Linked DNA regions of Homo sapiens. The protein of the gene in region 1 interacts with the protein of each later gene in a pairwise test. Each region holds a gene or a part of one and is shown on either strand. Other genes may lie near its edges.

Evidence for each region.
Region 2: the proteins of ACTR10 (region 1) and SLC13A1 interact in a protein complementation assay, tested with the Homo sapiens proteins (one large-scale study listed by BioGRID).

Annotation. Positions count from the first base shown.
Region 1 is NC_000014.9:58,203,017-58,206,845, forward strand, and holds part of ACTR10 (actin-related protein 10), read left to right. Parts: intron 1-3,829. UniProt on the Homo sapiens protein: Part of the dynactin complex that activates the molecular motor dynein for ultra-processive transport along microtubules.
Region 2 is NC_000007.14:123,123,448-123,127,276, reverse strand, and holds part of SLC13A1 (solute carrier family 13 member 1), read left to right. Parts: intron 1-1,601; coding exon 1,602-1,708; intron 1,709-3,829. UniProt on the Homo sapiens protein: Sodium:sulfate symporter that mediates sulfate reabsorption in the kidney and small intestine. Can also mediate the transport of selenate and thiosulfate.

The DNA.
Region 1 (3,829 bases):
AAAGGCCAGCCGTGGTGGCTCACGCCTGTAATCCCAACACTTTGGGTGGCTGAGGCGGGTGGATCACCTGAGATCAGGAGTTTGAGACCAGCCTGGACAACATGGTGAAACCCTGTCTCAACTAAAAATACAAAAATTAGCCGGGAGTGGTGGCAGGCACCTCTAATCCCAGCTCCTCAGGGGGCCGAGGCAGGAGAATTGCTTGAACCCGGGAGGCGGAGGTTGCAGTGAGCCAAAATCAAGCCATCGCACTCCAGCCTGGGGGGCAAGAGCAAGACTTCGTCTCAAAAAAAAAAAAAAAAAAAGAAACAAGAAACAGTACTAAATATATACTTTGTGGCTATATTTCCAAGGAAAAGTTTTTCTTTTTAAATCAACTTTATCAAGGTCTAATTTTGCACACCATAAGTATATCATGTTGTACAAGTACCACCACAATCCAGTTTTAGAATGTTTTCATCACCCCAGTAAAATCCCTAATACCCGTTTACAATTAATCCTCATTCCTATCCTCAGCCCATTAGGGTGTACCTTCTGTTTCTATAGATTTGTCTTTTCTGTACATTTTATGTAAATGGAATCATATATCAAGAGAAAAATTTTAACTTCAGTAAAATACTTTTATAAGTCTTATAACCACTGAATTATTTTATTATTTATAATATATCAGATATTTATTCCCTTATTTACAGTTTCAAAACCCAGAGAATTTTGAAAACAAACTTTCAAAAAGTTTCTTGCCACAGCTAATTTGGCAGATTAGAAATTACAACCAGTAGAAAGAATGATTTTGCATGTTATAAAATTCACTTGTTAAAAAATGAGATGTAGCTGTTACCACAGTAACATTATATATGCATTCCAGAAAATACCTTTGTTCTGCAAAATGGTACATTTTTAAAAAACAAAACAAAACAGGCTTATGGGAAAAATAAGCTTGAGGTAGTCCATATAAAACCTGTGTAACTTTGTAATCAGAGGACTAGCAAAAACAATAATTGATGCCTCCACAAAATTTAAATAGGATTGGCAGGCAGCTGAGTGTGGCTGGAGGCTGTCTTAGGGAATATTAAAAATAAAATTGTGGGCTGGGCAGATTACACGCCTGTAATCGCAGCACTTTGGGAGGCCGAGGCGGGCAGATCACGAGGTCAGGAGATCGAGACCATCCTGGCTAACACAGTGAAAACCCATCTCTACTAAAAAAAAAAAAAAAAATTAGCCAGGCATGGTGGCAGGCACTGGTATTCCCAGCTACTTGGGAGGCTGAGGCAGGAGAATGGCGTGAACTCGGGAGGCGAAGCTTGCAGTGAGCCGAGATTGCGCCACTGCACTCCAGCCTGGGCGACAGAGCGAGACTCCATCTCAAAAAAATAAAATAAAATAAAATCGTGGAGGTGGTGCGCACCTGTAGTCCCCAGCTACTTGGGAGGCCGAAGTGGGAGGATCACTTGAGCCCAGGAGGTTGAGGCTGCAGTGAGCCAAGATTGCACCACTGCATTCCACCATGGGCGACAGAGTGAGACCCTGTCTCAAAAATAAACAAATAAAAATAAAAGTCATGGATTGAAAATGTTAGCCAGTGGGTTCTGAGTCAGTGCAGATGGTAGCAAGCTCTGAGCCAGTGGGACTGTTATTAAGTAGCAACTAGGAGGAAATGCAACCCAACAGAGTCATGGATCCACTCTGAGGCACGAATTGCTGGTGTAGGGAGTTATTTACACTTTTCTTATGAATAGATCTGAAAGCATATCTACCTGTGTGATAACTGAGTTGATGACTTTCTTTTTCTTGATGAAAGTTATACTTCCATTATAATTATAGCTTGTCTTGCCTAATATTAACTAATACAACTATAACATTTTTCTGACATTATTTCCTTTTTTAGCAATCGCATATAAGCATATTTGGTTTTATAAAAACACATGTTGGCCAGATGCGGTGGCTCACTCCCAGCACTTTGGGAGGCTGAGGCAGGTGGATCACCTGAGGTCAGGAGTTCCAGACCAGCCTAACCAACAAGGAGAAACCCTATCTCTACTAAATATACAAAATTAGCCGGGCATGGTGGCACATGCCTGTTAATCCCAGCTACTCAGGAGGCTGAGGCAGGAGAATCACTTGAACCCGGGAGGTGGAGGTTGTGGTGAGCTGAGATTGTGCCATTGCACTCCAGTCTGGGCAACAAGAGCGAAACTCCATCTCAAAAAAAACAAAAACAAAAACAAAAAAAAACATGTTATAGCAGAATAGACGAGACCAGCAGTTTATATTTGGCATTTACATACATCAGAAATCTTTTTTTTTTTTTTTTTTGAGGCGGAGTCTTGCTCTGTCGCCCAGGCTGGAGTGCAGTAGCATGATCTGGGCTCACTACAAGCCCCACCTCCCGGGTTCATGCCATTCTCCTGCCTCAGCCTCCCGAGTAGCTGGGACTACAGTTGCCCGCCGCCACGCCCAGCTAATTTTTTGTATTTTTTAGTAGAGACGGGGTTTCACCGTGTTAGCCAGAATGGTCTGTATCTCCTGACCTCGTGATCCGCCCGCCTTGGCTTCCCAAAGTGCTGGGGTTACAGGTGTGAGCCACTGCGCTCGGCCCAGAAATCTTTTTAATTACACTTGATTAAGGAATCATTTCATTGATTTTAAATTTTTCTGCAAATCCTTGGACAAGCCAGAAATATGGTAGATATTGGTGGTTTGATGTTCAAAAATGTGATGGAAGCCGGGTGTGGTCTCTCATGCCTGTAATCCCAGCACTTTGGGAGGCTGAGGTGGCCAGATCACTTGAGGCCAGGAGTTTGAGACTAGCCTGGCCAACTTGGTGAAACCCCATCTCTACTAAAAATACAAATATTAGCCAGGTGTAGTGGCAGGCACCTGTGGTCCCAGCTACTCGGGAGGCTGAGGCAGGAGAATCGCTTGAATCTGGGAGGCGGAGGTGGCAGTGAGCTGAGATCATGCCACTGTGCTGCAGCCTGGGCAACAGAGGGAGACTCCATGTCAAAAAAAACGGGGGCGGGGGATGGAAGTTCCTGTTTACTAATTTTTCATGTCATTTTGCTTTATAACAATTGGCATTACTGTGTTACCAGATAGATTTCTTACTGGATTAGACCCTGTACGTTTTTGTTGCCACTTTCCTTGGTGCTTTGAGCTTTTATCTTTTTTTTTTTTGAGATGGAGTCTCACTCCATCACCCAGGCAGGAGTGCAGTATCATGATCTCTGCTCACTGCCACCTCCTCCTCTCGGGTTCAAGCCATTCTCCTCTCTCAGCCTCCCAAGTAGCTGGAATTACAGGCGCCCTCCACCACACCCAGCTAATTTTTTTTTTTTGTATTTTTAGTAGAGACGGGGTTTCGCCGTGTTGGCCAGCCTGGTCTCAAACTCCTGACCTCAGGTGATCCACCCGCCTTGACCTCCCAAAGTGTTGGGATTACAGGCATGAGCCACTGCGCCCGAACGAGTTTTTATCTTCATTTGAAAAGACAGATACCTAAAAAATTATTTATATTTGATTATATATGGTTTGGAATCTTCTTTAAGCCACATAAAATCAAGAAATTAGGCTGATGGTACTTCTTTTGAAAGAGTAAATGAAGAGAGGTCTGCCAATGATGCATCAGAGTACTGAGAGCTTTCTGAGGATCATAAGTGAAGCCATTGTTATATATTAGCATTGACTTAGCACTCATGGCTTGGTAATATGTGTGTAGGCTGCTTTTGTGCTAATGGTGTTTGTTGTCATTTTTATCACACATATTTATGAACAACCACAACTATGTACCTGGAACTGTATTATTTGAAGAAAGATATATCATAAGCAA
Region 2 (3,829 bases), on another chromosome or scaffold:
TATGAGCAGGCACTCATGCCACCTACAATTCTGAGAGAAAACAATAAGAAAGGAACAAAGGTTTGAGAGAGGATGGGATTTTAAAATATAAATCTAATTGGCAAACCCAAAACAAATAAAATTTATATAAGCTTAATAGTTTCTAATACTGAGACAACCTAACTGCATTCCTGAGAAACTAAAAATAAGTTATAATATGATAAGAATAGTTTTTAAAGTACTTTGAAAAGAAATTATTTCAGTATTTATGCCTTGATTTAATTTAATGTATATATTTTGTAGGACATATTTGTTATGTAGAGTTTCAGGCATTAAGAATTTCTAAAGCTAACATGATGTATCAAGATTTATAGCTACCACCTAATGTTTTCATTCCATCTGTTTGTACCTGGACTGAATTCAATGTGTCTTTTTATATAAAACGAAATCTGGTTACATGATGCCTGGCCCAATTTGCCAAAAATACAACCAAAAATTATAACTGAAATAAAAGAAATAAGGTATAATAAAATTATAAATATCGGTCCAGTTTGTAAGATAAATTATGGTAAGGTAGATTTTTAACTAGTAATGAAAGAAAATGTGTCTATACTTAAAGAAAGTAGACTGCTTTAAAAATTGCTAGATTGAGAAAGATACGGCATTTCTTTGGCTTTTTAGATTTTTCAAATAAATTATAGAAGTAGAGAAGCTTCGGTAGTGTATACATATTACTGAGTTGCAAGATAGTAAAAGAATCTTTAGCATGGTACATATTTCTTCTCAGGCTACAGAAATGCACTAGTTAATATTGCTGACTTTTAACACTAAATGCTAATTATTAATGCCTATTTCAGTTATATCTGGTCTCCAGGTTCTTTCCTGTTGAGGCTTCTGGGAATCTGTCTTATTTGTTACAATGGTCTGGTGATTCTAAGACCCCATCTGTTCCTGAATCAGTCTTAATTTATATGGTGATCATTTGTGAGCATTGGCTAAACCACTCCAACAATTAATATTCTTGATTGAATTTCATGGGGTGCAAAAAATTAAGTAGGTTGCTTTCCTTTGTATGATATGGTTAGAGCTTATAAACACAGAAGCAGGTGTGATATCTCAGAAAACAGATCAATTCCTTTTCACAATTTATAGAAGAGCTTTAGAGGAACACAGAAATATCACGCCTTGCCACAATTTAATAGAAGGATGTTATAAATCAATTATATGGGGCTTTCCATGCTCTAGCAATGTTTCAACTTCAAATCTTGATCAATATTATTAAATTAAATAATTCAAAGAAGAAATTGTTTAACAAATCTGTAAGCTTATCTAAAAGGGAAATTTGCCACTTTGGCCTAGTATGTCAGCATGTGTATACGTGGTATTGAAAATAAGAAGAGATATATGGGAACAATAAGACTATGGTCTGAGATTATTGTTTTTAGTGTTGTGTCATTTAATCGGGAATCCATATATTTTAGGGCAGATTATTGAGGATAAATAACCTACACCACCTACTACTGATAATAACCTATTACTGATATGTTATTAGCAAAATTGGTGTTTTAGCTCATTTAAGTTCTTGATGCTATTTTTAATACATGTATTTGTCCCTTTTACAGGTACCCTGGTTTTGCTACAGATTCAACTGTTGCTTTACTTATAGGGCTGCTATTCTTTCTTATCCCAGCTAAGACACTGACTAAAACTACACCTACAGGAGAAATTGGTTGAGTATCATTTATAATTCTGCATAAATTTAACAGAAGAGCAAAAATTACAAAATTCCATTGGTTTCGCTTGGCACCTAGAGCAGAAAGAAAGTCTATGCTGGCACAATCCCTGGCCTAGCATGCCCTATTTGCAAACTGCAATGCTGTCTTCAAGCCAGCACAGCTTCCACCTTCAAGAGAGATCGTCTTACTTTGCAGAAGTGAGAAGTAGATTTCCTTTTGTATCATGGCTAGGGCTCTGCTACAAGCGATACTATTTGACCCATGGTAAACTCACTTCAAAATTAATCTTACTATTGGCAAACAGAGGAAAAAGAACTTGGAAGACACTGCTTCATTATGATACCTTGGTAATAAATGCAGAGGATCTAAAAAGGTGATGAATTTCAAGAGAAAGAGTATTTACATTCTCAAAGTAGTTCTGGAACAAAAGCTAAATAAACCTCACATAGCCATATCCTAGGATCACAGCTGAAATAAAAGGGCCAGATGTGGTGGCTCACACCTGCAATCACAGCACTTTGGGAGACTGAGGCAGGAGGATCACTTGAGGCCAGTAGTTTGAAACAAGCCTTGGCAGCATGGTGAGACCCCAGCTCTATCAAAAAATTAAAAAAATTAGCCAGGTGTGGTGGCCAATCTGGAGGCCAACGCAGGAGGATCACTTGAGCCCAGGAGTTGGAGGCTGTAGTGAGCTATGATTGTGCCACTGCCCTGGGCAACAGAGGGAGACTCGGTCTCTAAAAATAATGATAGTAATAAAAATAAAGAAAAGGTATTCTGTGACAGCATTCATTGTATTTACAACACATGAACAAAGAAGTGTGCACATTTGCCTGAGCATACCATCCTCTCAACACACACACACACACACAGACACACACACTTTTTAAACACAAGATTCATCCATATCTTTGCTTTACAACACAGCATGTTTTGAGTAGTCAGATTCCTATCTTGTCAATGTGGGACAACTAATTTGTAATTGTCTGGAAATTAACTAGTAGACTTGTGGTTTTGTTTGTTTGTTCTTATGGGGATGGAACTGGGATTTATGTAGTTGTGTTGGCCCACTTGACTCTTGTCAGAATCTATAAATGACTAATGTATCAGATTTCCAGGACATATGTGACCAGCACAGCATAGAAACAAATGTACTTTGTTTTTCACTTGAGATTAGAATATCTCAATGTGTGTTAAGGAGGTGATGCAATATGGAGCATTGATTCCTATGGGACCCCAAGGACTCTGATCATTGCAGTCAAAGCCCTGAGGTCTGGCAGTGGCAAGTACTGAGGAATCCATGTTTGGCTTTAGCTTCCCTGGTTTCCACATCTGAATTCCCTCCCTTAGAAAGAGCCTTGCTCCTACCCACCTTTCTCTCTCCCCTCATTCTTCAAAACCTCTTCTCCCTGCTAAAGTCATTCATACAAGGCTTAAAAATGACAAATAATATATAAATATGTTAAATTTTAAATAAGAAGTACTTGTCAGAGATGTTTACATTTTAACAAGATATATGACCTTAAAGTAAGAAACCTGGTGACATAATTTCAGTTATCAGTGAGGATGGGTTTGGTTTGGATTTGGGGGAAGATGATAGGAAGGAAGCTTATTGGTAAACTTAAAATCTTACCATGTAGAAGGCTGCCTGTTATACACAAGTTAAATGGGCAGAATATGTCTCCAAATGAACTTCTTTATCAACAAAGCAATGGAGAGATCAGAAGCCAAATATAAAGAGAAATCTTTATGATAATCCTTTTATAAGCACTTTAAGAACCTCATAAATAATACTTTATTTAATCTGAATCTTGAATTATTTTTAAACTGAAATCTTGGTGAATCTATCATGATCCTCCTTATGACCTAAAAACTAATAAAATGTTCAAATATTAATGGATAATAATTAAAATGCTACAAGATGCTATTGGAACCAATGGAATATTATGGACATTTTGCATAGCAAAGAATATTATAGTCTAATGCACTGTGCTATTCACAGTTGGCAAAGATGTTAGTGGAATATAAATGAATGAGTGAGTGAATGAATGAGTACCATTATAAGTGACAATGTTATAATTTATTGAAATATATTCTATAATATTACCCAAAGG